Homo sapiens: one gene and its partner. The protein of the gene in region 2 interacts with the protein of the main gene of each other region in a pairwise test. Each region holds a gene or a part of one and is shown on either strand. Other genes may lie near its edges. The genes, in order: TRAPPC8 and TRAPPC10.

Region 1 (12,760 bases), on a different chromosome or scaffold from region 2:
TTTATTTGGTTAGAATTTACTAAATTTGGATCAGTGACAGAAAAAAATACAGTCTAAAAATTAACAAAAGAAAATATATCAGAAGGGAATCAAGTTGTTTACTTTTGACGCTAGAGATGATGTTAGAAGTTAAAATAATCTAAATTTGTCATTCTTACATCTGGCTAAATGTCTTTACTTAACGATACATTAAACCTATTTAGAAAATACATCATTTTTGTCCATTTTATTCTATGGAGTGATTTAAGAAAGTTTTCTAATTGTTTACCAATGCTATAGCCTTTACCTGTGTGACATCCGGGAAGAGCACCAATGCCATCTACTGTCATAGAGCCCTGAATAGTGCCAAGATTATAAACAACTCCCAGAATATGCAGCTCCCCTATGTGATGGGGAAAGAGCTTTAGTCTTGCCTGTGGAGATATTTAAGTCAGTCTTATTATGTTTTCATAATATCTTAAATAGCACAATACCTAATTCTATAATGTTGCAAAAACATAAACTCATGACCTAAACTTTTAAAATGCCAATTAATTTATGAAAAGCATCTTCTTCAAAAGAAAATGTCTAAATTTAACAATTATAGGCCTAAACCCTCAATAATAACTTTTCATAAAAAGCATATCAAGAAGAAAGCAACAGGCTTCTCAGGAAACTAACAAATCAAAGACCACTGCAAACCACCAATTTCCTCCTGAGCAATTCCTATGTCCTAATCTTCCAAATTTTAGTTCTTAAGAAAACTAGAATATAAAATAAACTGAATAAAGATTATTTAAAAATTTGTTTTCACCTTACTTTCAGAAAGGCATAAAGCAGAGAAATGATAAAATAATTACCACTTTTGATTCTTCGCCATTAATTAAGAACTCTGAAATAACTTCAGCTCCAATCATTTCAGGTTCACTTGTAACCTAAAAAATAAATTTCATAAATTATACATTCCAATGAACAAAGTATCAGATTATTAACACTCCTATATATCAATACTTCAAAAAAATAACACTAATTAAAGTCTGCATTTACTTGGTTTTTACCACATGCTGAGCTCTACACAAAGTGTTTTTATTTCCACAACTAGAGTAGACCCAGGCTGTAGTAGGCACTCAATATATATTTTTTTCATTTTGTTCAGTCCAATTCAACTGAGAAGGATAAGCAATCGATTCAAAGATGCCACTATCCACATGCCTGTAATCCAAGCTACTCAGGAGGCTGAGGCAGGAGAACCGCTTGAACCCGGGAGGTGGAGGTTGCAGTGAGTCAAGATGGCGCCACTGCACTCCAGCCTGGGTGACAGAGCGAGACTCTGTTTCAAAACGGGAGCATATCAAAGATACCGCCACCAAGATAATAAAACCCTGAGAGAAAATACCTAGCTGCTCATAGTCAACAATGGCCAAATGGTCATTTAATTTAATCTTACAATAATAGCAAATTTCTTCTTTTGCTCTGACCAGCCTCTTTTTCAAAATTGGTCAATTACATAGAAAAGATAATGGTGGGCTAAGCATGATAAAGAAAGACAGGTAGACAATAACAGCAGTGGGAGAGAAGGGAAAAAGGCCTGTTTCCCCCAAAGCAATGACATTTCTCTGGTCATGTAGCAAAGCAGAGCTAATTGGCTCATACTGGAGATAAACCTGATCCTCATAAACGCTATTATACTTTCACCATGACATTATTTAGCACAAGAAACAAAAAACTCCCTACATTCCAGTTCAGCATCTTAGTCCATCACCATCTTAGTCCATTTTCTTCATTTCTTAGTCATGAAAAAATCCAGAGTTTGCAATTTATAGAAAAATATTATTTTAAGAAACACTTCATCATACAAATGAAAATATTCACTTAACTTTAAACCTCCTTTAAAATCTCCCATATTGAACAGACTAATATACTTAAAAAGCTAATAAATCTTTTTAAAAAACGTTTCCAAGTTTAACCGCTCATACTGAGTATTCCAGGCACCCAAAAGATTAGAAAAATTGCAGAAGTTGCTAAAATTCAAGTCAGAATACAGCCTGGGAAATCTCATTCAAATTATTAACAATGAATATAAATAATACAAAATATCTTTGACAAATTTAACCAGCAAGACTTATTTATTTATTTATTTATTTTTTATTGTTTGTTTACTTGTTTTGTGGTTTTTTTTGAGACAAGATCTTGCTCTGTCTCCCAGGCTGGAGTACAATGGCATGACCTTGGCTCACTGCAGCCTCAGGTTCCAGGACTCAAGCAATCCTCCCACCTCAGCCTCCCAGGTAGCTGGGACTACAGATGTGTACCACCACATCTGGCTAATTTTTAAATTTTTGTAGAGATGGGGGTCTCACTATGTTGCCTAGGCTAGAGCAAGACTTAAAATAAGGCAATCTTGAAAAAATCAAAACACTTGAGCACCAAAATGCTGGGTTATTTCCCAGTTCCAAAATCCTTTTTTTTTTTTTGCCACATTATTAAAGCATTTAGCAAGGTAGTATAAAAAAAGCAAGTTATATGATAGATACTGGTGACTAAACTAATAAATTAGTAAGTAAATATATCTATTTGTCCAAGTTATTTCATTTACAGTCAGGTGGGTATTAATAAAGAAACTATTTGGCCACATCATTTCTGCTTCAAAATTAAGTATCTTAGATACATAAAGGACTTATTAGACACGGAAATGAAAAGAAAAAAATATAAATGAGGTTTTGAATAGGCAATTCACAAAAGAGGAAAAACAAAGAGTTTCAACTTCACCAGCAATCAATGAAATGGAAAATAAAACAGTTAAGATGGCATTTTAAAAATATCAAATCAACAAAGTTTTTAAGTTAATACTGCTTACTGTCATAAAGATTAGACACCCAAACCCATATGCTGCTTAGTAAGAAGCTCATTGGTATGAACTTTTATGAAACCAGCAGGGCACTACAATACTTTTCCCTAAAATCTTCACTTCATGCCCTGGAATCTTCCCCACAAAAATAATCTAAAGGTAAAAAGCCACACACAAAAAAGTGCACCACAGTATTACCGTGATAGTCAACAAATGGAAACTTGCCAAAAAACTATCAAAGATAGTAAAATAGCTTATGAATCACTCATATGATGGAATATTATGCAAAAATAAAATATTAAGACACTTTGATATCAGAATACGCCTATAAAACAACACAGAATGTAAAAAGCAACATACACAGTATGAAGGAATCCCAAATATGTGGGAAAAACATACAAATGAAAATAACTGGAAGGCCGGGCGCGGTGGCTCATGCCTGTAATCCCAGCACTTCGGGAGGCTGAGGCGGGAGGATCACGAGGTCAGGTCAGGAGTTCGAGATCAGCTTGGACAACATGGTGAAACCCCATCCCTACTAAAAATACAAAAATTAGCTGGGCGTGGTGGGGTAAGCCTGTAATCCCAGCTACTCAGGAGGCTGAGGCAGGAGAATCACTTGAACCTGGGAGGCAGAGGTTGCAGTGAGCCGAGATGGCGCCACTGCACTCCAGCCTGGGCAACAGCGTGAGACTCTGTCTCAAAAAAAAAAAAAATAAAAACAAAATGACTGGAAAGATACACAGCAAAATGTTAAAGTGGTTATTTCTAAATATTATGAAGACAGATGGTTTCACTTCTATTCCTTATGTTTTTATGTATTTTCAATTTTCAAAAATAAGTACATATCATAATTTTTATAACTAAGGAAAAATAAACCAAAAAGAAGTATAGCTCACTGAACAGAGTACATTGAAATGTTACTACAGCATTTGTTAGGCTGTAGCTGAAACATAATTACAAATACCTTTTAATAACTTACTAGTTGTTTAACTTCTTCATTATCCTTTCCACTGAAATCTTTAGGATGAAACTTCCAAAGCAATGACAAATCAGTCAACAAAAGTAGAACTTTCAAAGGGTTTCTAAAAGCCACTTCCACTGTAATTGGTTCTATTAAAAAAAAGGCCTAAATTAATAACTTTAATAAACATCACACCTCATTCTCAGCTTCGATCTTCTAAATGCATCTTGCTTTCATAGCTCTGCATTTCTGCCTAGACTGTCCTTTATTACCTTATAAATGTCCACGTATTCAGGATTCTGTTGTAATACTACATTACCTCCTTGAAAAGATTTCCCCAATTTCTCTGTACTAAAGAATGCCATTCCCTCTTGTATATTCCAACATCACATTGCAAATAGCTGTAGAAGAGTCCCCCTTGTCTGGTTTTATAAATGCAGCTCAGTAAATTATGAGTTCCTAATTTATTTTTGCATCCCCAGCACCAATTATGTGTGCCAAACAATAAATTATCTTCATCATGCTGTAAGTAAAACAAATAAAAAACAGAAATAAAAATTCAAGTATATCACCTTCTACAACTGCAAGTGGAAATCTTGAATTATCTGAGTAACTGTTCAAACAGTATTGTGTGGGATGAAAATTGGATGGAATTACTCCTTTGTTAACCACAGAAACAACTTGTTCCTCAAGTTCTCGCCACTGCTGAGAGGATTCAGAATCATATTCTTGATCAAGACTTACATGAGTAGCTGCTTGTTTTTCACCTAAAAAAAATTTGTTAACAACACGTTTATGAAGACTTGCCCTCAAATAAAACATATTTTAAATAGACATAAGGTACAGAAATAAAAAAATATATATATATACATTCACTCTTGCCTATTTCTAATTCTGAGTGAAAAATATCCTCTCATTAATCCTAGCTTATCTGGATTTTGCTTATAATACTGATGTTCTTTTCCTCCTGACTCTGAAAGAATGTATTTTCCCTCGTGTCCACAAGCAATTTTTATATAAAACATTTCAAATATACAGAAAAGGCATGGAGACTAATATAACAAATATTTGTATACTAAAATTTAACAAATGTCAACTTTCACCTATGATCCCAAATATTTTTAATAAAAAAAAAACATCACAGATAGAGTCGATGTCCTCTCTGCACCACCCCCAATCTTATTACTCTCCTTCGCCCCCACTGGCATCACTTCTTCCCAGAGGTATTCCAAAGTTAAAGTGTATCATTTTCATCCATGATTTTACCACATAAGTATATCTAAAAAATGCATAAAATTAGTTTTTATGTTTGAAACTTATACTGTAATTGACTCTTCACTCAGCATCAAGTTGTGGGAAATGTAGAATTAGCATGAATTCTCATGTACTGCAGCATGAATCCATTATGTGAATATACAAAACCATATCAATTAATCCTCTATTAGGAATTCTATTTCTTTCACTCTTTTGCTACTACAAACAATGCTACTATGAATATGACAATTTAAAAAAAAAATACTAAATCGTATCTCAAGGAGAAACGTTGATTAAATTCAAATATAAGAATGTTTAGAATGACAAAGTTTAACAGCCATCGAGAGCTTTAAAATATATGCATTTATATAAAATATATTTGTATAGATTTAGGGGGTACAAGTTATGTTTTGTTATACAGACATATTTTCTTGGTGGCAAAGTCTGGGCTTTTCGTGTAGCCATCACCCAAATAGTATACATTGTACCCATAAGTAATTTCTCATCCTTCATTCCCTACCCTCCCAAGTCTCAATGTCTATGTGTACACATTATTTAGCTCCAACCCCAGTTATCGATGGGAGCATGTAGTATTTGACTTTCTGTTTCTGAGTTATTTAATGTAAGATAATGAAGAGCTTAATATATTTATACTTTTGTTCCATTATTGCCATTCTAGGGTTCAATCCTAAATAAATCATCCTGCATTTAAAAAAAAGTCTTACAAGAACAGCAGAACATTGGTAACTGTTCTTTACTTCTATGTACATTTGAAAATTTCCATAAGACATTTAAAAAACAAATTTTATCTACAAAGATGTCCATCACAATACGATTTTTTTTTTTTGAGACAGTCTTGCTGGAGCGCAGTGGCGAGATCTCGGCTACTGCAACCTCCGCCTCCTGGGTTCAAGCGATTCTCCTGATTCAGCCTCCCGAGTAGCTGGGACTACAGGCGCATGCCACCACGCCCAGCTAGTTTTTTGTATTTTTAGTAGAGACAGGGTTTCACCATGTTGGCCAGGATGGTCTCAATCTCTTGACCTCATGATCTGCCCGTCTTGGCCTCCCAAAGTGCTGGGATTACAGGTGTGAGCCACCACACCCGGCCACAATATAATTTTATATAAGCAAAAGATGGAAACAGTCTATATATATCAAGTGGATGTTAAAATAAAGTACTTTATAAGCACTGAATAGAATATTTTACTAACATTAAACGTTTATGAAGATTATATAATAACAAAAGCATTCTTTAAGTGAGAAAAGCTGTTGTAATTACAACTGTTTTGTTTTCATTTCATTGTTTTTAGTTTTTAAAGCTGGAAAGAGAAACACCAAAATAGTAGTTATCTTCAGGTGACAGGACAAAAGAAGTAATAGAGAGCTATTCATTTTCCTTTTTTTTTTTTTTTTTTTTTTTTTTTTGAGACAAAGTTTCACTCTGTCGCCCAGGCTGGAGTGCAGTGTCGTGATCTCAGCTCACTGCAACCTCCGCCTCCCGGGTTCACGCCATTCTCCTACCTCAGCCTCTTGAGTTGATGGGACTACAAGCATGTGCCACCACGCCCAGCTAATTTTTTGTATTTTTAGTAGAGATGGGGTTTCACCATGTTAGCCAGGATGGTCTCGATCTCCTGACCTCATGATCTGCCGGCCTCAGCCTCCCAAAGTGCTGGGATTACAGGCATGAGCCAATCGTACCCGGCTGAGCTATTAATTTTCAAATATTCAACTATACATCGTTTTTTAAATGGAGAAAGGAAAAGAAGTTTTTTTTAAATTGTCATTAGGTAATTAGGCTAAATAAAACTTTACTAACCATCCGCTGGTCGTCTGTCATGGCCAAAAAAAACCCGTGTTGCTGAACTGTTAATATACGGTAAAGGAAGCTGTGGCAAAGGACCATCTGGTGACAGCTGACTTACATTCTGAGAGAAATATAAAAGGGAAAAAAAGTAGTTTTTGTGAAAATGGTATTTTTATTTGTTTCCTCGTTTCTTAATACACAAGGCATTAAAAATATGTTAAGCAAGAATATTAAGATATGTAATTACTAGTTTTATTTCTCATATCAGTCATAAAATTTTACAACTCAGAAGCACTTCAGATATTTATTCTGCCTCAAAAGAATCTTACTGAGGTTACTCAGCTAATTACCTGGATGTTAAATATGCAAAACTTATTTTAGTAAGCGTTTTACTTCTTATGACTCATTATAGCATCCTATCTGCCAAAATTCTAACCCATATAATTTCAAATTAATAAAGTCTAGACCCTAAAGGTAGTTATTTTCTGCACGATAGATATAATATGCACTATTCATAGGCCTTGGGAAAAAATTTACAACTTCCCATTTTTTCCATAAAACAATGCTTTATATGTTTATCTGCTTGCCTCAGTGAAACAGTCCTTCTTCCTGTTAATTTTTCTCCATTGCACCATAATAGCCTGTCTACTTTCCACAGATCCATACCCCCTCATCTTTCACAAGGAAAAGAACATAGAATGTCCATCTCCAAAGGATGGTAAAGAGAACCCACTTAAAACCAACTGTAAAATCAGTTGTGAGTCTATAAAAGCATGATGAATAAAGAATCCAGAAAACCTGTGGAATCTTTTTTTTTTTTAAGATTCTAAGAACAGCCACAAATCAAGTGTTCATTGTAATATTAAAATTCTCTTTTCAAGAACTGTGGAAGGGGCAATGTAACCAAGATCTATAGCCAAAAAGCCTAGCCTGCCACAGCTTTTTTATGACTGATAACTACATATATTCTAATAAAACTATCGTAAGATATGGTAATAAATAAATACTTTCACACTAAAATACAGTTTTAATATCTATTCCTGAATGAAAATAAGCAGTCACCTTGTAAACATAAAGATATTCTCTGAGGAAAGCCCCCTGTTGAGCAGCAGATTGTTTACTTTCATTAATTAGAATATGCCTAAAAGCAGACACAGCATTATCCAGCTGTCTAAGAGTATAGGACTGGCGCCCAATAGTGAAATTAATGTGATCCTCTGCAAGAGACCAGCCTTTTCCTTTGTAAACTTGCATGGCTTGACAATAACAGCGTAAAGCATGCTTTTTCTGTAAGAAAATAAACAAAATAATGTATTATACTCCAAATTTGTTTGAACTAGAAAAAACAAATACAAACACACACATAGAAACAATTAAGTAACTGGTTCTTCCTCTAAGGGGGACTGGGATAATGAAGAAAATAAAACTAACATTTATGATAATCCCTTCACAATTATATATGGAATGATATAGATAAAGTTACCTGAGCCATTGTGTGTGTGCGTTAGATAGGAGTAGGGTACCTAAAGGAAGAAAAGGGAGGCCAGACTGCTTTGACATTTACCCACTACTTCTCTGAGCCACAATTTCAAAACGTCAACTTCAGAGGAAAGAGCTTACTTCTCAACTTGACTTTATCTACCTTAAATTCTTTCTGGAAAAAGGCAAGGGATATGTAAACAAACTTCAACATTTAAAATGGTCAGATTTCACTAATATGATGATGAAAAAAATGTTCTCATACTTTAACTAGAAGCATGCTATGTCTACAAAGAGTTTCTCCATATTAAGTAAAACAATAAACACATTTATCAAAGTTTTTTCTTGCCTACGATCAGAGACTTACATTGAATGTATGTGGCCACATATGCCACAGTTTTCCACAGTACAAATAATATATAATAATATATATAGTAGTATATATAATAATATATAAATAAACTTTTTTTTTCTATATTAAAAATTCACATACTGGACCAACCATGCTGATCCCAGCCTGCCTGCCTGCCTGCCTGCCTGCCAGAACTCACTGGCCAGTGTTGTGACCACTGAAAGGTTATGCCTCACACGGTTCAAATAAAGCAGTGGGCTAGGACAGCAGCACAGTAAACACTGCCTGGGCAAGACATGACGGGGTTCTCTGCCAGCATCAGGTGCTACCACAGCCTCCTTTTCAAGGTGCTGTTGGCAAGTGTCAGGGCATACTTCCTGGTATTCAGTGCATTTACTGCAGGACTTAAGAAGAGCAAGAGATTAATAATATACCAGAATGATATACAAGATGTGTGTTCAAAATGGAAAATTGCAAGGAATGCCAAAATCTTACAAGTATTGCAATAAGAATGCAATATTTGTGGCAATAAACATCATCAATGTAAAAAATCAAAAGAGGTACACAGAAAGACAGATCCTGCATGTTCTCACTCATATGTGGGAGCTAAAACAGTGGATTTCATGAAAATAGAGAGTGGACTGGTGGTTACCAAAGGCCAGGGAGAGTGGGTGATAGAGAATGAAGTTGATTAATGGGTACAAATACATGGTTTGATAGAAGAAATAAGACCTAGCGTTAGACAGATCAGCAGGGTGACTATAGTTTACAACCATCTACTCTACATTTCAAAATAGAGAATTTGAATGGTTCTAAGGTGATGGATATCCCAAGTTCACTGACTTGATCTTTATAAATTATATGAATGTATGAAATTATCACGTATTATACCCCAAACTATGTATGTTTATTATGTATCAATTTTTTTAAAAGGAGAGTATTTTCTTCAAGATCGCTTACAGCCGGGAGGGGTGGCTCACGCCTGTAATCCCAGCACTTTGGAAGGCTGAGGCGGGCAGATCATGAGGTCAGGAGATTGAGACCATCCTGGCTATCATGGTGAAACACTGTCTCTACTAAAAATACAAAAAATTAGCCGGGCATGGTGGCGGGCGCCTGAAGTCCCAGCTACTCAGGAGGCTGAGGCAAGAGAATGGCATAAACCTAGGAGGCGGAGCTTACAGTAAGCCAAGATTGTGCCACTGCACTCCAGCCTGGGCTACACTGCGAGACTCCATCTCAAAAAAAAAAAAAAAAAAAAAAAGATCACTTACTAGGGACCTCAGATCCTCAGATGCCAGTTCTCCTCAGAAAGATCAAAGTAACTAATTATCCAAACAGAAAACTGAGAAAAGACAGCCAGGATATGATGAAGAACCCATGGAAAGAAACTAGAGTGCAGGAAAGAAAAACAACAAGAGTTTGGCAGGGATCGAGTGCTGAGGAACACAAAACCCCATGGAAAGGGTAAGTGGGAGTACTTCTCTGCTGCCCTCACCCCTCTGACCATCTGTTCACCATCCAACTGATGGGGAGTCCCTCTGCCCTCATGATGCAGGACAACACTAACAGTGGCAGTTTGAGAACGTCCCAGGGACAAGGATGTGGGTGGCCAGCTCACACAGGCATGCCCGCCCTCCTTTCAGGCCTGAACTGAGACAGGAGATACCACTGCCCTGCCCAGGAAATCTCTGCTCTTGAGTCACCACCGCACCACCAGATCCCTAACATATTCACAACTGCTGTGACATTAGCAAGTTTAGGAGACCAGTGGGTCCCCAGAGAAGGTGTGAGACCCATGGAGATGTAACCGTTAATTTAGGCTGCCCCTAGGGGAAGGGGGGACAGTAGCCTGCCAAAGCCCCACCTTGAGACAAAGGTAATGCAAGCAAGCAACAATCGCTGAAGTGGGCAGCCCCAGCGGCTGGAAATGAACATGAAGAGGGGATCATTTCCCGCCCACCCCATCCACTGTTGTGAACACAGGAGAGGTTCTCCCTGCTGGGAGCTGGCAGACGTGTCCTTGGGGAAAGCACTTTTCATGCTTTTTGTGGTGGCTCCATCACAGCTAAAAGTGAGCCTGGCCGGGCGCGGTGGCTCACACCTGTAATCCCAGCACTTTGGGAGGCCGAGGCAGGCAGATCACAAGGTCAGGAGATCGAGACCATCCTGGCTAACACGGTGAAACCCCGTCTCTACTAAAAATACAAAACATTACCGGGGTGAGGTGGCGGGCGCCTGTAGTCCCACCTACTCGGGAGGCTGAGGCAAGAGAATGGCATGAACCCCGGGGGGCGGAGCCTGCAGTGAGCCAAGATCGCGCCACTGCATTCCAGCCTGGGCAACAGGGAGACTCCGTCTCAAAAAAAAAAAAAAAAAAAAGTGAGCCCATGGCCAGGCACGGTGGCTCACGCCTATAATCCCAGGCACTTTGGGAGGCCAAGGCGGGTGGATCACCTGAGGTTGAGAGTTTGAAACCAGCCTGACCAACATGGTGAAACCCCGTCTCTACTAAAAATACAAAATTAGCCAGGCGTGGTGGCGCGTGCCTGTAATCCCAGCTACTCGGGAGGCTGAGGCAGGAGAATCGCTTGAATCCAGGAGGCAGAGATTGCAGTGAGCCGAGATCGCACCATTGCACTCCAGCCTGGGTAACAAGTGCAAAACTCTGTCTCAAAAAAAAAAAAAAAAAAAGTGACCCCATGCCAACTGGGCTTGCAGGAAGGGCAAGGCCCAATTCCCCCTCCCTACAGAGAAGCATCCGGGCAACAGAAGGTGGACAAGCTGCAAAGCTGTTTACTCTGTACTAGAGGAAGAAGTTCCGCCCTGAGCCCATTTTGGTGGCAGCTGCCCGTTTTGGTGGAAGTGTACTCTGGTCAGAGCCTAATGGACAAAGTCTACATGAACTGATGGTTGTGAGCCCTCTGACCGGGGCGTGATAAGGAAGCTTCTGTCTGCTCAGGATGAGCAACTGGTGCACCCCATCCCAAAAAGGATCAAATAATCTATAAAGTAAATATTATCAGACTAACAACAGACTTCTCAGAAGAAACCTTACCAACAAAAAGAGATTTGGGGCCTGTTTTTACCCTTTTTAATGACAAATAAAAACAAAAACAAAAAAACTACTAGCCAAGAATTTTACAGCCTGCCAAACTAAGCTTCATAATTGAAGGAAAAAATAGTATTTCTCAGACAAGAAAATGCTAAAGAAATTTGTCACCACCCGACCAGCTCTACAAGAAATGCTCAAAGGAGTTCTAAACACGGAAACAAAAGGATGATACCTGCTAACCATAAAGATACACGTAAGTACAAAGTTCAAAGATCCTATAAGGCAGTTATACAATTGGGACTACAAAGCAACTAACAACATTATGACAAATACAAAACCTCACTTATCAATATTAACTTTGAACAAAAATAGCTTAATTGTTCTACTCAAAAGACAAGATCCAAGCATATGCTATCTACAAGAGACCTATCTTCTGTGTAACGAGATCCACAGGCTCAAAGTCAAGGGGTGGAGAAAGATCAATCACGCAAATGGAAAACAAAAAAGAGCAGGGGTTGTTATTCTTGTTATCAAATAAAATGGACTTTAAACCAACAACATAAAAAAAAAGACAAAGAAGGGAATTATATAATGATAAAGAGTTCAATTCAACAAGAAGATTTAACTAGCCTAAACATATACACACTCAATACCAGAGCATCCAAATTTATAAAACAAATACTACTAGACTGAAGACAAGACAAGCAGCCATACAGTAATACTGGGGGACTTCAACACCCCACTGACAACACTAGACAGATCATCGAGGAAGAAAACTAACAAAGAAACTCTGGAATTAAATCGGACTTTTGACCAAATGGACCTAATAGACGTCTACAGAAGATTCCAACTGACAACTACAGGATATACATTTTTCTTATCTGTGCATGGAACATTCTCTGAAGTTGACCATATACTGGGTCACAAAGCAAGTCTCAAAAAATTTTAAAAAGTCAAAATCATATCAAGGATCTTCTCAGACCACAGTGGAATAAAATTAGAAATCAATACCAGGAGGA
Region 2 (12,760 bases):
TCAGGATTGATTTCTGGGCTACGAGACTTGGGCACACCCTGAGTAACATGATGCAGCGACACATTCCATGAGCTGATATCCTGTGGCTCTGGGACCGAAATCACATCTTTCTCAAGTAACTGTCAGTAAGTACCAGCACCAAAGCCTAAAATGAGACAGCTCCTCCGTGGCTGAGCTTATGAGTTTCAGTGGACAGACACCGAGGCACACACGACACAGACCTCCTCTGGCCTCGTCACCGGTCTAATGGACATGACCCAAGTTTTACGCCCCTCATGCCTAAGCCGGCCCTAACCTCTTACAGCAAACTCCCTGGCCCCTGGAACTGAGAGGGAAAGGTAGAGCTGGCTTGTCTCTGCCCTTGCAAAAAATGCACCCCTTATCTAAGAAAGGGTGATTCACAGACAGACAGAACTGCTAAACACATGCCCAGGGCATCGGGAATCAGAAGGAGCCAGGCTAACAGCAGGCATCGCTACATCGCCTTTCCCAGCAGGCAGGCGGGCGGCGGACGCCCCACAAGCTAAGCTCCTCCACTGTCCCTACTCACTTTGTGGTCTGTGGTAACCATGCAGCGGCCAGTTCTCTGTTTGTCCTTATGCTTCCTGTGGGGCTCTGCCATCCCCAGCATGTCACTCTCCCCTCCGAGTGCTGGGGCTGAAGGTAAAGAGAGAACTTCCAGTTCAAATTCGATCACGTGGTACGCAGGCGCAACAGGCAGACTGATGCTCGTGACCTTGTCGGAGGACTGAATCCGGAGCGCGGCCTCAGAAGACTGTTCTACGAAGGACAGAAAAAGTCACTTCAAAGCTGTTCCCTCGGTTTCACTTGTCCTTTTCCTTACAGCAGGTGATGGCCCAGCAGTGAGGCCACTGCTCAACCTCTCCCGCTCCTGCGCACCTGGCAGGCAAACCCAAGAACAAGGCCCCTAGGACAGAGCAGCCCTGTGTGAAAGCCGGCAGGCAGGCGCCCAGACCCATCATTGATCTCAATCTGAAGAGAGGAAAAGGGCATTTCCCACGGGGCCCACCCAAGTCCTGTGTAGGTCCCTGCATGACTTTCTCCCGTTCCAGCTCATCCGCAGATCCACCCCCACCCCAGGGGAGCAGGGTCCTCCCCTTCCCCTTCCTCGTGGCTGGGAGGATGGGAGTGCTCAGGGCTCTCAACAGCACCTGCAAGGGCTGCTCTGCTTTTGCTTCTCGGGAGCAGGGCCAGCCCAAGGGGGACAGGGTCTGGCAGGCATCACCATGGAACGTGACCCCAGCCGTGACCCCCATCTCCTAATCCTCAGCCAGACAAGCACTGCTCGGCCACTCAGCGTGTGAACCACTCTCAGTTTATCACCTCAGATGGGACCCCAGCACAGGCATCAGGCCGCAGGGCTCCTATGGAACACGGACTCCAGACACTGTTGAGGGGCGCTCAGCAGGATGGCAGCAAGGCCAGGCTCACCCTCACACCCACACAGTGCAGGGCAAGGTGGGCATCCTCCTTGGGCCTGGGTGGGCGGCACCTCACCTCTCGTGTTGGAGTAGACCACAGCCCTGCTCTCCGCCTGGCACAGGATGAGCATGGCTTCGGCATTGCTAAGCTGCAGGCTGTCTCCATTCTTTATCGTATAATGGCCGGTAGTGACAGTGAACTTGACTCTCTGAGGAATGCCTGCCAGAAGGCTATCTAAAGGAAAAGAGATCGTGGCTCAGCACCGCTGCCAACCGGAAGACAGCATCTCAGGGCCCGCAATGGGGTGAAAGGGGCTCTATTTCTTTTACTATGAAAGATTTGCTCCTTTGGGATCTCCATGAATTCCTTCTACTTCCATTCCCTTCTGCCCTAACTTTTCATCTCAATGATGTGGACTACAGGGTTGAAGGAGAACCTTGCTGGGGAAAAAAGAATCCTGTGAGTCAAGGAGTCTTATACCCATCTTGGTTCAGCAAGTCAGGGATTATGATCATGACTACGTCTCTGAGGGTCACAAAATTTGCCTGCCCATTAGTAGTAGAAGAGAATCACATAATGAGGCTTAAGAAGAGACTGTAAAGAAAACTTGACTGTGCTGGTGCTGCTCAAATATTCAAAACCTTCTCTGGATTTTTCAGCTTCAGGCCACGGGCTTTTGGGTTAAGAACAGTCAGCAGTCAGGTGGCTCCCCCTCACTCCAAGACAGCAATGAGAGGCAGGAGTGAGCTGAGGCCTCTGAGAATCCTGCTGCAGGGAAGACAGAAGGCAGGCAAGATACCAGGACCGGGGGGAGAGTGGACAGAGACAGGGGACACTAGGCAGGAAGCAGGAGCCAGGCCATGAGCCTGGCACTGCAGCCGCTGGGCCATGGGGAGGGCAGGGCCTGCTGGCTGGTGCTTCGGCTCCCCTGCGGGAATCGAGTTCAGCTTCTCTACACAATGTTCCAATGGAAGAATCACTGGAGAGACTGACTGCTGTGTCCCACATCTGACAGCCTTTGCTGGTGGCCACACAAGAGGCACAAATGCAGAAAAATAGGGGGAATGGGGGAATAACAGAAAAATGCCCTTTGTGATTTTTTTCCACGTAGAAGAAACAGGCAAATAAATAAATCGTTGCTAGCCCGAACAAAGGAGACATTCACTCACTCTTGTTCAGCTGCCACATGTTCTTCAATCATTTGTTTATAGCAACTCCTTCCAATTTTAGAACTTATCAGAAAGGACAATAGCTTTGAATTTCTCAAATGCCATGCCAGACGGACAAGTTTAATCAACCCTTTCAAAGGAAAACTTTTTTTTTTTTTAAGAGATGGAGTTTTGTTCTGTCACCCACGCTGGAGAACAGTGGCGCAATCACAGCTCCCTGAGGCCTCAAACTCCTGGGCTCAGGAGGCTGAGGCAGGAGCCTCAGCTGGGGCTCCAGCCTGTAGCTAGGACTAGAGGCCGTGGCGCACGACTACACCCAGCTAATTTACTTCATTTTTTTATTTTGCAGAGATGGGGTTTTGTCATCCTGCCCCGACTGGCTTACCCATGCTGGTCTCAAAGCCTTGGCCTCCCAAAGTGCTGGGATCTGAGTATAGATCCTAACTAAATCTAGTGTTTAGCATTTGAAACGTACTTCTAAGCAGGAAATTATATACATATTTATGAAACCCTGTGGTAGACATTAGCTGCTTCTTGGCCTAATGTGACACTGTAAAATACACATGTAGTTTTCAACCCCATTTCCAGGCATACTAGCTCCCAAATTCCTTAGAATCTCCAAAGTGATGTCTTTTTGTAGGCTAATGAGTTGATTGGAGGCTGGCAGCTCCAAGGTAGCTTCAAGATGAGGACTGGTCACCAGAATGACCAGGGCAGGATTAGAGGGTCGGGCCTTTCAGCAGTGGCACCCAACCTCCAGGGAGGAAAGAGGGGCTGAAGGTCGAGTTGCTCATCAGTGGCCAGTGGTGTAATCGATCATGCCTGTGTAATGTCACTTCCATAAAAACCAAAGGACAGGGTCTGGAGAGCTTTCAGGCAGCTGAACACATGGAGGTTCCTGGAGGGTGGCGCCCAGGGAGGGCGTGGAAGCTCTGCACCCCTTTCCCCATACCTCACCCTCCACACTTCTTCATCTATATCCCTTATAATAATCCAGTCAACCTGTTTCCCTGAGTTCTGTGAGCTGTTCTAACAAATTCATCAAACCCAGAAAGGGGGTTGTGAGAGCCCTGATTTCTAGCTAGTTGGTCAGGAGCACAAGCAAAAGAACCCTGGGCTGGTGGCTGGCATGGGAAGGGGGGGACTGTCTTGGGGACTGAGCCCTCACCCTGTGGTGTCTGACGCCAGCTCCAGTAGACAGGGTCAGAACTGAATTGCAGGACCGACTGCTTGCTTGCTGGCAGGGGGAAATCCCTGCACATTTGGGCCCAGAAGTCCTCTGCATTGACCATTAGGTTGAGTGAGCCAATAGAAAAAAATACCTTGAGTTTCTTTTTTCCACTCTCAGAGCTAATTCTTCTGTGTTTCTTATTTTCAGATACACCATGTTTATTAAACATGAAAAAGCAATTACAGGAAAGCAAACATTCAGATAAACAAAAGAGGCAGTCAGCTAGTTCCCAGGCAAAATTTCCATTATGTTACCCAAAATATCTCTTAAAGGCAGACACAGCTAAAACTTATGAGAAGCCTGGCATCTCAGCAGGTCTCCTCAGAACTGCCCCAGCAGCACGCCTCCTCAAAGGCTGGGGACCCCACTCACCAGCCAGCGGCTCCACGTGCAGCTGGGGCTCCTGTGAGTACACGTCGTACTGCACAATGGGGTAGATGTGAGGGAGGACGAACCACACGGAGCCCACCGAGGCGCACAGCTGCCTGAGTGTATACGTTCCAGGTTCCTTGGCCTAGAGTCAAAGAATCAGGCATTTGAAACCACGTCACCCAGTTTTGCAGTTAGCTTCCTGCGGTAGCGCGGTGCAGCGGTCTCTCTGAACTCCAGAAAGGCCTGTACTTCTTTCCCTCTTGTACCCCCTGCTCTTGTGCCTAAACCTCTAAGCTTGGGCTCTTCACAAGGCCCTCAGAATCTCTCAATTCGTGATTTTCTGAGTAACTGATGCTTAAATTTAACTTTAATAAGGTATTTTCAACTTATCTAAACTGTATTTGTGGCATTGTAGAGACATTCAGCACGAGATTTAAGCCCTGCCCTAGACTAAAAAATGTGACAAATAGCTGTACTTTCCACAGGCCAAATCCTGTTGAGTTAGTGGAACTTACAGGATATCCTGTGTCAGAGAAAACTTTATGTTAGAGTGGGTGAGAAACACCAGTTTTGACACCCAGCCAGCCACAAAAGGAAAATAAGTTTGAGTGGGAAAGTGTACCACCTTCTTTGAAAGCTCATTTTAACAAATGAGGGTGTGTATTTTCATATGCAGGGGGGAAAGCTAACTGAATCCAATAATCCAATGAGTTAAAAAGCTAACTTAATCTAAGAACAAATATCTACGTTAAGAACTTCACTCAGAATTTATCAAATGTCAGAAAATTGTATAAAACACGAAAGAAAACATCAGTGTATTTTTGTATAAGGACAGAGACAAAAACAGGGTTAGGAGAACAAAGGACTCTACTCAATTCACAGCACACTCCAGACAGTTCTTGTAAGCTCCACGGCCCTGCTTTACAAACTTGAAAGTCAAGTTCCCACCCTGAACGCATACCTGAGTCCTGAATGTTATCTGGTTGGCCCCTGGTTCCAGGGTCACGTGGCTGCACCTCAGCACGTGGGCACCCTCCTCCAGAGCCACCCCTGAGGGCATCTCTAGAGAGGAGCTGCTCTCCTGCCTTCTCAGGAGCATGTGGACGTTTCTGCAGATAATCCCAGTCGTGTTCAAGGAGTTATCAGATGGGCTTCTCTCAAACATTTCATACAACTCCAGCGCGGGCAAACTGTTTTGGGATACAGGGAAAGGTGCGGTCTCGGGTGGAAAGTTAATGATCCCATTGGACGTCTTGTGCTTGGTAAGCCACTCCGCAGTCTTCCGGTAGCTGTTTTTCTCAATGCTGAAGTGGACATTGACCACAATCTGCTCCACGTGAACAGGCACAGGCATCTGGCTGTACATGGTTATCTCAACGCACAAAACGCCGCCCACGTGGACCACGGCATTGGAGGGATCAAAATGGAGATCTCGCAGTTGTGCAAAGGAATGCATGGGTAGCACTATCTTATGACCTGTAAATAGACATTATCGTAAGTGACTCCCCAAGTCACACTTCCTGACAGTAAGCAGCAGCAGGCCGCGGACACAGTAAGATCACCGAGAGCAGACTGAAGCAAGCAGCAGTGATGGGCACAGCAGCTGAGCCCAGCCTCCTGCCATCTTCACACCCCCCAAAGGCTATTGTATCAAAAGCAGAATATTAGCAAATACCTACGTAATGCCTAGAAATCATAAAATGTACAGAAATTAACCTTCTCAAGTCTGCTTTGACAAACCTAAGAGAAATACAGGTCAACTACCTCTCAATTTCAAACGACAATTTGTAAATAGTCCAATTTCTACAGCTATTTCCAAGGGATTCCAATATTTTCTCACCTACTTAAAAACATGCTCAGTGAAGATGCCCAAGTGCCCTGCTGTGATGTGGAAACAAACCCCAGGTGTCTGCCAGTCTACAAAGTCAGCCGATTAAGCAGGACCCCTCTGTGCCCCCAGGCCCAGGATGGCAGCAACCAGCCAGGTCTACAGTTGCTGCTGGAATGAGAGCCTAATGCTCTCTCTGGGCCCTTCTCTCTCTGACCGAACTGTAAGTACCTTGGTTTTGTCTAGAAAATACACAAGGCTGCAGAAGTGACCAGTTAAGTATTTATTAAATATTCATCAACGAAAGGACTTGCCAAGACTGATGCCATAGATCATGAGAAACAGTAAACGATTGTGGAATATTTTATTCGTATAGAGATACCAAGGAACGTTGGCAGGAACATCACAACTCAAATAGTCTCAAATACAAAGCAGCAGCAGATGTGGTCACGGCTCTACCAACAGTCAGCTTGGGCGCGTTAAAGACTCCACAGACTAACGTCATGATGCTCCCGAGAAACCCACCCACATGGATCTTTTGTTGTCCCCCTTTCTTTGAGACAGGGTCTCGCTCTGTCGCCCAGGCTATAGTATAGTGGCACCATCTTGGCTCACTACAGCCCAGTTCTCCTGGGCTCAAGCGATCCTCCTACCTCAGCCTCCTGGGTAGCTGGGACTACAGGTGCCCGCCACCACACCTGGCTAATTTTTTGTAGAGACAGGGTTTCGCCATGTTGCCCAGGCTGGTCTCAAACTCCTGACCTCAAGTGATCTGCCTGCCCCGGCCTCCCAGGGCAGGCAGAAGTTCCTAGAAGTTTCAGGGTCAGGTTGATGTGGTTATTGACTGCTGGGGTGTATTCACTTACAAGCATCTGGGGCCCAGCGTGGTGGCTCACGCCTGTAATCCCAGCACTTTGGGGATTACAGTATGGGGTTTCTTTTTAGGGTGATAAATATGTTTTAAAATTGACTGTGGTGGCCAGGCATGGTGGCTCACATCTGTAATTCCAGCACTTTGGGAGACCGAGGTGTGTAGATTCCTTGAGCTCAGGAGTTAAAGACCAGCCTGGGCAATATGGCAAAACCATCTCTACTAAAAATACAAAAATTAGCCAGGCATGGTGGTATGCTCCTGTAGTCCAAGCTACACAGGAGGTGGAGGTGGGAGGAGCAATTGAGCCCAAAAAGCAGAGGTTGCAGTGGGCTACAATCATGCCACTGCACTCCAACCTGGGAGACAGAGAAGAAAAAAAATAGCTGGGTGTGGTGGCCCACACCTGTGGTCCCTGCCACTCAGGAAGCCAAAGTAAGAGGATCTCTTGACTCCAGAAGGTTGAGGCTACAGTGAGCTGGGATCGTGCCACTGCACTCCAGCCCAGGCAAGAGAGCAAGATAGTCAAAAAAAAAAAAAAAAAAAAGAAAAAAAAAAAGAACAATAATATTGACTGTGGTAATGGTTGCACATATTCCTGAAACAGACTAAAAGCCATTGAATTATAAACTTCAAATGAGTGAATTACATGGTTTGTGAATATCACAATAATGCTGTTACATTTTAAAAAAAAAAAAAAGCACCATCTTAAAAAATGAAGAAAAAGACTGGGTGCGGTGGCTCACATCTGTAATCCCAGCCCTTTGGGAGGCTGAGGTGGGTGGATCACCTGAGGTCAGGAGTCTGAGACCAGCCTGGCCAACAGAGCAAAACACTGTCTCTACTAAAAATACAAAAAATTAGCAGGGCATGGTGGCGGGCGCACGTAACCCCAGCTACTTGGGAGGCTGAGGCAGGAGAATTGCTTGAACCCGGGAGACGGAGGTTGTGGTGAGCTGAGATGGCACCATTGCACTACAGCCTGGACAACAGAGCGAGACTCTGTCTCAAAAAAAAAAAAGAAGAAGAAGAAAAAGAGATGGGAAGAACTTTTTTTACATTAAAAGAGAACTGAGATCTAACAACCACATGTAATATGTGATATCCTGTTGGACTCCATTAAAAATGATTTATAAAATACTTTAAGACAATTAGGGAAATATGAATATGGCCTACTTAGCAGATGATATTAGAACCTTATTAATTCTTTGGGTGTGGTTAAGAGACTGTCCTTATTTTTAGAAGATCTAATGTGGTCTAGAGTTTGACTTAAAGCAAAAATAAAAAAAAAAGTCAGGTGAAAGACATAGATACATGTCAGCTACACAGCAAAATGTTAGCAACTGTTTACTGTAAGTGGTTGGTATATCTTGTATTCTTTTTTACTTCTGTAATATTTGAAAATATTCCTAGTCAAGTTGTAAGAACTGGTCTTACCTGGGCTGTCTGACGGCTGGCTGGCAAAGTCAAGTATCTCCTGGCAGAAGTGCTTGCGCTCCTCTTCAGTGAGGTGGTGGTCACTGGCTAAGAGGCTGCTGGTCTGCAGGTAGCTGGAGCGGAGAGGTAAGGAGCGTGGAGAGGCTCATACTTAGGAGTGCGGGGGGAAGTGGATGCAAAGTCTCCTACGGCCTTCACAGAGGCTTCAAAAGCCAAAGGGCTTTTTTTTTTTAAGTTACTAGGGCTCAAAATTAGATTATAAAAAATCGACTAGACATTTCATTCATTTTCTATACAATACATATGTATAAGTTAGGACTTTTCTCTCCTTAATAATAGGTGTGAATGAAACATTGATTGTGGGCAATGTTGCCGTATAAACAGAAAATAATTTTCCTGCTTCATGAAAACATTAAAGGATACTTTTCAATTTGTCCAAGGTGCTTTTGACATTCGGCCAGCTGCTTCCTTGTGTGTGTGATGGGGAGTGCCCAGCCCTCAGCCAGGTAGTTTTTCAGTGCTCCTTGAAGATAGATTTCTGCCTTTTGTGGAGCCTTTTTCCTCCTTGCAAAGTCAACAAACAGTAGCTTTCATTACAGCTAGGGATAATCAACACACTGAAACCCCATCTCTCCCGCTTTGGCCTCCATCCTCCAGACCCCATGCCAGGACAGACTCAACATCTCTAGATAGCCCTTTTCCACCCACCCCACTCCGTGAGAAAGAGTACCTACTCAGGACGACATAATTAGACTCCCAGGCAAAGATCTGAGAAATGAGCGTGTGGTGATAAGAGCACAACACATCGTTGGTCTGGCTTTATACACATGTCGAGGAACTTTCATAGCTGAATCTCAGGATAAGAAAGTGAGCCTATCATTCATGATCTCAAGCTGACAGGCAAGAGGGCCAAGGCTAAGAGAAGGTGAAGGAAGGGCTTGTCCACAAGTACACTGCTAGTCAGCAATGAAGCCAGGAAGTCCAAGTATGGGTCTACACTACCTACTAAAGGCACAGAAACACAGAAGCAGTCTACAGGGCGCAAGCGGAAGGGAGCACAGAGCCACTTGGAAACTCAGGCAAAGAGCACTCCACAGGATCCAGCTTCCAGAGAACGCCGGAGAATTAAAATAGCCACACTTGGCCCCCAAAGCAAAGTTTAAAGCACAACTGTTTTTTTTAAAGATGGGGTCTTGCTCTGTCACTCAGGCTGGAATACAGTGGTGTGATCATAGCTCACTGCAGTCTCAAACTCCTCAGCTCAAGTGATCCTCCCGCCTCAGCCTCCTCCACTGTAGCTGGGACTACTGGTGTGTGCGGCCTTGCCTGCCTTTAAAATGCAAATTAATAAGGGCTTGTCAAAGCCTCAGGAGCAACAAGGATCCCCTCCCCTTTCCCGAGAAGCCTCTCTGCTTCCTTAAGGAGCACCTTCCTCTTCAGATACACAGCATGGAAGTTCAAGAGAGCTACATTCTAGCTGTGACTCTGCTGTTAACCAGTGGGTAATCGGCAAAGCTGCTCCAACCACATCCGGAAAACCAGAAAGTTCACTTAGCTGATCTAAGAATCCCTTTCCAGCCAATTCACATCAGTTCAAATCAATTCTCATTTCTTGCTTCACCTAATGAAATCACTTGAGTACAGATTTCAAGATCTCATTTCAATCACTTTTTTTTTTTTTTTTTTTAGAAAATGAAAACAAGCATCTTTTTCCTTATAGCTTGTATCTCCTTTGAGTACTCTGAAATGGTAACCACATGACCCACTGGGGTTTCTTCTCTTTGATAGTCTGATTTTATGAAACACACCAGAAATACGCTAAATTTTGAGTTTTTCTGGAATCAAACTTCAAAGCTGGAGCTGGAATGGAAACCCTGCAGTCTTTGTACACACCTTCTTCCAGTCATCCCTAGATCATCCCTCTTTCATGAACCTGACACATGCAGTAGCTTTACATCAATGGCCTTGAGGTTTTTCAGTCCTCTTAATACTTGATAAAATTAGAGAAATGCTATATAACAAAATATGTAAGAATCTATATGCCAATTTACTCACCATTATACTGTCTTATAATTCTTTAATTAAACTTAGTTACAAAAATGTATATATTTAATTAAATAAAAGAACCTCAAAGACCAATAACAGTTATTAAGAGTAACAAGCAGAAAATCTCTCCATCTGGTTTTCAGAAGAAACTGAAAAAAAAATTATGAGGACTGGGTAAGAGAATCTACACTTTTCAGTCTACAAATTTATGTGCACTTTATACTAACTCCATATATAACAAATCTTCTCGTGTTATTTGTATGTTTAGAATTCAAAGAAAAGTACAAAATCAATTACATGTAAAACTCTGCCAGATCTTTTCCAACAAACTTAGCAGATCGAATCCTCCCAATGCTTGTATACATTTCAATGGTGGCATGGGACAAATCCTGTGGGGAAGTAAAAACACAATTATGTACTTGAACTTTTAATGATGGACAAATACTACATTTATTCACCTAAAGCTCACACAAAAGACATTGTTGGGTTTTTGTTTTGAGACAGAGTCTTGCTCCATCGCCCAGGCTGGAGCACAGCGGTGAGATCTCAGCTCACTGCAACCTCCGCCTCATAGGTTGAAGTGATTCTTGTGCCTCAGCTTCCCAAGTAGCTGGGACTACAGGCGCCACCAGGCCCGGCTAATTTTTTGTATCTTTAGCAGAGACAGGATTTCACCATGTTGGCTAGGCTGGTCTCAAACTCCTGACCTCAAGTGATCCACCTGCCTCAGCCTCCCAAAGTGCTGAATTACAGGCGTGAGCCACCATGCCCAGCCCGCAGAAGACATTGCTAATAATGTAACATTATTTTTTCCTTTGCATCTATTTTTGTGAATTTTTCTGTAATATATAAGCAAAATTGGTAACCTGTGTATAAATTATGAAGCATAATAATAAAAGAAACCCACAAACTCATCCAAAACATCTAACTTTTCCAAGGACTTTCTGCACGTGGGTGACATGCTGGGTATTTTTCATACTTGTGTGTATAAGAGGTACAGCCATTACGGGCAGACCAAACGCTCAAGTTGCCCATGACCCGGGAATGACGCTGACCCACCACACTTCTGCCTACGCCGTTTTTTAAAGTTTTGCTAATTTAAGTCTTTCAAAATCAAATACAATAGCTCTGCCCAAGTCCAAATTACTCCTTTTTACAAAGAAAAGTATTCACTAGCCTCTCTTATAATTTCTGTGTGAGCAAACCCAATTTGAACAAAACGGTAAATATTCAAAGATGATTCCATGCCTAGCATGGTACCATGGGCACTAATACACATTTGATGAACTACTCCATGTTTTGTCCACAACTCCCCAGGTACCAAAGAAACTAAAAAAAACCAACAAGAAGGGGCCCCCCACACCAGTTCCTTCCCAACTCAACAGGCCATGTAGCAAAGCCTTCTAGAGACAGGTATTCACAGAACAGACATTGAACACTTGTTAATACTTACTAAGTAGTGTTTTTCAAAAGCTTCCACTGACGATAATGCTTCTTTCAGTTTCTTATAAGGACTCTGAGCTGTGTTGGCTTAAACAGAAAGAAACGAGAGTCCCTCTTCATCTTCATCATGTCCAGTCACATGACTTTACATTCACCTTCACATACTGCAGGTAGATGACCTCATCTGACTCTTGTGAAATTACAAACCGGCCAATGCCAACGGAAACTACATGATTATGTACATTCTCTTTCAATTCACATATTCATAAAATAGTCAAAACGCTTTGTGTCATGCTTTTTCTCTGATCTTTAGAACTAAACTTTTTTAGAAACATATATTACAAATACTCCGATGAATTAAATTACTTCCGAAGTGATCTGAAATGGTCTCAAGTTGAAACAATGAAATATAAATACTACGTATTTTTTCCCTTAAACATTTATTCAATTTACTAAGAATGTTTTCAGCTCATCAGATATTCTTTAGCAACAGTCTTGCTAAATAATACTCATCATATATTCCTACGTAAAACAATGAGTAATCCTCCTTTCAAAGAGCCTTATTATCCAGGAGAATTTTTTTTTTTTTTTGACAGAGTTTTGCTCTTGTTGCCCAGGCTGGAGTGCAATGGAGCAATCTTTGTTCACCACAACCTCCACCTCCCAGGTTCAAGCGATTCTCCTGCCTCAGCCTCCCGAATAGCTGGGATTACAGGCATGCACCACCACACCCGGCTAATTTTGTATTTTTAGTAGAGATGGGGTTTCTCCATGTTGGTCAGGCTGGTCTCGAATTCCTGACCTCAGGTGATCCGCCCACCTCGGCCTCCCAAAGTGCTGGGATTACAGGTGGGAGCCACCGTGCCCAGCCAATTTATTTTAAAAAATTTGCTGGGAGGCCAGGGCAGGAGGATCACTTT

The links.
Region 1: the proteins of TRAPPC10 (region 2) and TRAPPC8 interact in a two-hybrid assay, tested with the Homo sapiens proteins (one study listed by BioGRID).

What each region holds. Positions count from the first base shown.
Region 1 is NC_000018.10:31,866,563-31,879,322, forward strand, and holds part of TRAPPC8 (trafficking protein particle complex subunit 8), read right to left. Parts: intron 8,143-12,760; coding exon 7,918-8,142; intron 6,977-7,917; coding exon 6,868-6,976; intron 4,559-6,867; coding exon 4,364-4,558; intron 3,941-4,363; coding exon 3,810-3,940; coding exon of another isoform or gene 3,798-3,809; exon of another isoform or gene 3,795-3,797; intron 915-3,794; coding exon 840-914; exon of another isoform or gene 836-839; intron 414-835; coding exon 287-413; intron 1-286. UniProt on the Homo sapiens protein: Plays a role in endoplasmic reticulum to Golgi apparatus trafficking at a very early stage. Maintains together with TBC1D14 the cycling pool of ATG9 required for initiation of autophagy. Involved in collagen secretion.
Region 2 is NC_000021.9:44,075,719-44,088,478, reverse strand, and holds part of TRAPPC10 (trafficking protein particle complex subunit 10), read right to left. Parts: intron 12,031-12,760; exon of another isoform or gene 11,928-12,030; coding exon 11,851-11,927; intron 10,787-11,850; coding exon 10,695-10,786; intron 8,916-10,694; coding exon 8,775-8,915; intron 8,465-8,774; coding exon 8,352-8,464; intron 5,692-8,351; coding exon 5,177-5,691; intron 4,358-5,176; coding exon 4,216-4,357; intron 3,892-4,215; coding exon of another isoform or gene 3,781-3,891; intron 1,678-3,780; coding exon 1,519-1,677; intron 781-1,518; coding exon 551-780; intron 1-550. UniProt on the Homo sapiens protein: Specific subunit of the TRAPP (transport protein particle) II complex, a highly conserved vesicle tethering complex that functions in late Golgi trafficking as a membrane tether.